Linked DNA regions of Homo sapiens: region 2 is linked to region 1. The links come from fine-mapping of genetic effects on gene expression. A gene starts in region 1. The other region holds a variant in brackets. All regions are shown on one strand. Distances are from middle to middle.

Region 1 (2,500 bases):
TGAGAAGACACAAGCGCTGTGATGAGCCACAGATTAGGGAGTGGAGGGAGATCCTCAGGCCCTATAAGTTATGCAAAACTGAACACATTGGGAACCCACTATAATTTACAACTATCATTTAATTTTTAATGCAATTTAATAACAACTTAGTTTAATGACTAGCAAGTACATTTTTTAAAGGACAATATGGAACAATTTCATTTTCCGCATTTTAACTGCAAGCTTAGCTGATATCTTTTGGACACCTGAATTTGTTAGTCTTTGGAATGCTATATCTAACTACATTGAAATGCTACTTTTCATTTGTCTTTGAAAGACAATCTGAAATGAATCCTAGAACCTATAAAACGAACCCCAACTTGTAGCATTACTTTTTAAATTCCACAAAGGTGCCTTTTTGTACCTACAAAATGTTTGCAAGAAAATAAGCAAAAAACAAACGGTGTATTCCGTAGTTCGTTTTTGTACTGGTCTGCTGGCAAATCTTTCAGTCAGCTGAGTTATATTTTTCCGTATTATTTTTTTCTAATCCTTCCTTTAAAAAAATTGTGTTTGCTAGTTGTCATGTATTAATTTAGAAAACGCAAAGAAAGAACTCATAACTTCAGTAAGCTGAAGCATTAGCACATGTGTACTTTTACCCCACTTATGTTTATTTTTTCATACATATTTTGAGCAGTATTTTATATTTTCCAGATTTAGGGAAAGAAACATTCTTCCCTTTTCACTCCAAAAATAGTGAAGGAGTCAGGTTGCTATTTTGCTCTTGTTTTGTTTATTTCCAACTTATAAAACCACTGGACTTTTGTTGTCATTCATTTTAGTTTATTTCTTAGTGTCTATAACAAAACTATCAAGAAAATCTAAAGCAAATGTAATTCTACCACTAAAGTTTAAGAGCAGAATTAGAAGTAGGTGATCTTAAAGATAATACTTTGTTTAAATTAACTACAGGATCCAATTCAATGCCCAATAATACAGAAATGCTACCTTTGGCATTCTACAAATTAAAAATGTTAGAAATATAGGATTATGCTAAAAATATGTAGCATATTTGTAGTCAGAATAACTTAGTTGAAATGAGAATTTCATTGATACTTGATATGTCATTATGTTGTGATACACCAATTTATTCAACATTATTTTAAATTTATTATTATGCCACCAAAGAAGAAAGAATATTAAGAAACCTCTTAAGCGTTTGGTTTTTAGGTAGTACTTTGTACTGATATAAAATCTAAGTTAAAACTGAGCACTTACCTTAGATATTAAGAAAAGCACACTGGCGAATGAACTACAGCTGGCCCGAGCTCTACCACAGACAGAATGTTTCAAACTTTTCTATGACTTACAGAATGAGAGCAAAGGATGAAGCTTCAGCAACTGTCCCTGGAGAAAGGGCTCTCACGAGTTTCGCCCTGTCTCATGTTTCATCCCCTCACATTAGCAACAGACGTGTCTAATTTTACTCAGTGACATAAACAGTTCATACCACACTTAAAATTTTTTGGGCACCAATTCCAGGACACAGCTCTTCGCATGCCAAAAACAAACCAAAACAAACAAACAAACAAGAAACCAAACTCTTCTTCTTACAAAACCAACTTTCCAACATTTAAACCCTAAAGCATGATAGTTTAATGTAATTATAACTTTCTTAAAAAAACTTTACCTCAAACAAACAGCAGAAAACTTCTAAGACTGGTTTCCATTAGAAACTAATGTTGATAAAATTTTACGAAAAATCTCTTCAAATTAACATGCAAGTTAGAACTTGTGACTATTACCTATATACTAGTCTCATCCAAATGAACGGCATATTACCATGTAACAGTGACTCTTTAAAAATCACTTTCCCTAAGCCTCTTTAAGTGAAAAACTTTTAACATCTGAGGAGAAAATCTTAAACAAAGATCACCATAATAGAAGGTAAACAAACTCTGCATGTTAAAATTATGACAGTTCTTTTCTAGTAAACTAACATTTCTATTGTGTTTAACAAATTATGTGAATGTAACAAATGTGACCTTAAATTGTCTTTATGTTTATTTAAGAGTAATTAGGTCATTCCATTTTATAAGGTGTAAAGACAACAGAATAAATATCGAACTTCTGAATAATTTTAATATTTTATTTTGCATTATTTTTATGTGACCTGGTTTGCAGCAGGATTAAAACTTACTAAATTATATACTTCATATTTGCATTTTAGTACTAAACCTTGAATATAAGAAGCAGTGCCTTAGTATACATGCACACAGAGATGGGAACAATCAGATACTGGGGCCTGCTTGAGGAAGGAGGGAGGGAGAAAGGTGGGGTTCGGAAAACTGTCTATCGGGTACTGGGCTTACTACCTGGGCGATGAAATTATTTGTACATCAAATCCTGGTGATATGCAATTTATCTGTGTAACAAACCTGCACATGTACCCCTCGAACCTGAAATAAAAAATGAAGAAAAAAAGGAGCAATGCAATAACAATGCATATGCTTCATTC
Region 2 (3,038 bases), 25 kb after region 1:
GGGTTCACGCCATTCTCCTGCCGCAGCCTCTGATGATGTAATTTTTAAATTTCAATAGTTATGTGGATGAATTGTAGAGTGGTGAAGTCAGAGGTTTTAGTGCACCCATCACCGAGCCGTATACATTGTACACAATATGTAGTTTTTTATCCCTTGCCCATTTTCTGGCTTCTGAGTCTCCAATGTCCATTCTACCACTCTGCATGCCTTTGTGCACCCATAGCTTAGCTCCCACTTATGAGTGAGAATATACGGTATTTGCTTTTTCATTCCTGAGTGATTTCACTTAAAATAATGGCCTCCAGCTCCATCCAAGTTGCTGCAAAAGACATTTTATTCTTTTTTGTGGATGAGTAGTATTCCATGGCATATATGTACCACATTTTCTTTATCCACTCATCAGTTGATGGGTACTTATGTTAGTTCCATATCTTTGCAATTGTGAATTGTGCTGCAATAAGCATATGCGTGCAAGTGTCTCTTTGATATGGTGACTTCTTTTCCTTTGGAGTAGATACCTAGTAATGGGATTGCTGGATTGAATGGTAGATCTACTTTTAGTTCTTTGAGAAATCACCATACTGTTTTCCAAAGAGGTTACAATAATTTACATTCCCACCAGCAGTGTATAAGCGTTCCCTTTTCACTACATCCACACCAACATCTGTTGCTTTTTGAGTTTTAATAATACCTACGCTGGCTGTGGTAAGGTGGTATTTCATTGTGGTTGTAATTTGCAATTCCCTGATGATTAGTGATGTTGAGCATTTTTTCGTGTTTTTGGCCATTTGTACATTTTTCTTTTGAGAAATGTCTATTCATGTCATTTTCCCACTTTTACATGGGTTTTTTTTTTTTTTTTTTTAGACGGCATTCTCGCTCTTTCGCCCAGGCTGGAGTGCAGTGGCGCTATTTCGGCTCACTGCAAGCTCCGCCTCCCGGGTTCACGCCATTCTCCAGCCTCAGCCTCACGAGTAGCTGGGACTACAGGCGCCCGCCACCGCCCCCAGCTAATTTTTTGTATTTTTAGTAGAGACGGGGTTTCACCGTGTTAGCCGGGATGATCTCGATCTCCTGACCTCGTGATCTGCCTGCCTCGGCCTCCCAAAGTGCTGGGATTACAGGCGTGAGCCACCGCACCTGGCCTTTTTTTTCCTTTTTGATTAGTTTCAGTTCCTCAT[A/G]GATTCTGGACTAATATCCTTTGTCAGTTGCATAATTTGCAAATATTTTCTCCCACTTTGTGGGTTGTGTGTTTACTCTGATGATTATTTCTTTTGTGGTGCAGAACCTTTTTACTTTAATTAGGCCCATGTATTTATTTTTGGTTTTGCTGCATTTGCTTTTAGGGTATTAGTCATAAATTCTTTCCCTAGAGCCATGTCCAGAAGAGTTTTTTCCTGAGTTTTCTTCTAGAATTGTAATGGTTTCAGGTCTTAGATTTAAGTCTTTGATCCACCTTGAGTTGATTTTTGTAGTTGGTGAAAGAGATCCAGTTTCATTCTTCCACATGTGGCTATCCAGTTTTCCCAACACCATTTATTGAATATGGTATGCCGTCCCCAATTTATGTTTTTGTATGCTTTGTTGAATAATAGTTTGTTATAAATATTTGGTTTTATTCTGTGATTTCTGTTTTCTTTTTTTGATGGAGCCTCATTCAGTCCAGGCTGGAGTGCAGTGGCGTATTCTCGGCTCACTGCAAGCTCCGCCTCCCGGGTTCACACCACTCTCCTGCCTCAGCCGAGTAGCTGGGACTACAGGCACCTGCTACCACACCCGGCTAATTTTTTGTATTTTTTAATAGAGACGGGGTTTCACCAAGTTAGCCAGGATGGTCTCGATCTGACTTCGTGATCCTCCCGCCTTGGCCTCCCAAAGTGCTGGTATTACAGGCGTGAGCCACCGCGCCTGGCCTGTTTCTGTGATTTCTGTTCTGGTCCATTGGTATATGTATCTACTTTTATATCAGTACCATGCTGTTTTGGTTACTGAAAATTGTTGTTGTTGTTTTTTAAAACTAACTAAAGCCTCTGGAATCATCCTAAGGGCATACAGCAAATGGAGAAATATTTATTTCTAAAATCTAACAAATATTGGTAAAAACAGTGTGAGTTTGTGGCATTTGAACCACTACCCACTCAGTCCCCACCCCCAACTCAGTGTGATGGAAGCTGTACTCTTGGTAGGTGTGGCCAAGAAGATAGACTCCCTCTACCCCAGTTACCAGTCCAGGATTTTGTTTTTTTCCAGAGGTGGTTGGCCTCCATCATTCTCACACCTAGTCCACCAAAGCATGTATGTAAACTCCATTCTAGTCAAGTGTGGATGAAAGGACTGGGGCTTTACCCAGCCACCTGCTACCCAGCCACCACCGTAAGGTAGAAGTTCTATTCAAATTGTGTCAGGTGAAGAATACTGGACAACTACTACCCCTGCCTTAGCCCACACATGGGGCGGAGGTTCCATATTGGGAGAGGCAAGCTGAAAAGACCAAGGGCTACTAACCCCACTCAGTGTCCTGCTCACGAAGCAGGGATGTCACTCTGAGAGAAGCAGCCTGTTGTCCCCACCCCCAGCTCTGGAGCAGTGGAACAAAGTTTCTTCCTAGGGCGAGAGGGAGGATTTAAGAATAGAGGACTTCATAGCTGATTTTATTTGAAACAGAATGGGGGAGAAGTTCACTATGAAAAACAATGGAGATCTTGGCAGTAAGCAATTAAGAGAAGACTGCTAGCTTTATGATAACAAAAAGCTAAATGGTAGACCAGCTAGAAAATTAAGAGACCATCAGGAAAAAAGTCGCAAAAAAGAGTCCTCCTAGACTTGTAGGAGGTCTCAAAGACTACCCATGAAAAGGGGACTGGGCTGTAATTAAATTAAATTATGGAACAGTTTATGCTCCAGATGTTGTCAAAAATATTAGAGGAATCAGCTAACAATTAGTAAAGGCTAAGAACTGGTGTAATACTAATAAAGGCAGATCAGCCAGACGCTTAACAGGGAGATCAGGGAGAGAAACAAACAATGCAAACCTAGCT

Which allele goes with the higher level. Alleles are on the strand shown, and positions count from the first base shown. SD is a standard deviation of normalised expression in the study named.
With allele G in place of A in region 2, the expression in adrenal gland of the gene that starts at base 1,357 in region 1 is lower (small effect, 0.34 SD a copy in GTEx).

The links.
Region 2: its variant is fine-mapped to the expression of SGCG in adrenal gland (GTEx, PIP 0.95).

What each region holds. Positions count from the first base shown.
Region 1 is chr13:23,179,836-23,182,335 of GRCh38, reverse strand. It overlaps SGCG (sarcoglycan gamma), which reads right to left and starts at 1,357. Exons shown (of 8, transcript NM_000231.3): 1 at 1,261-1,357.
Region 2 is chr13:23,154,290-23,157,327 of GRCh38, reverse strand. The region is part of intron 1 of LOC124903134 (a long non-coding RNA gene); the gene reads left to right. Among named protein-coding and RNA genes, the nearest start is that of LINC00362, 15 kb to the left of the region's middle. The variant A/G (reference allele first, on the strand shown) is at 1,182.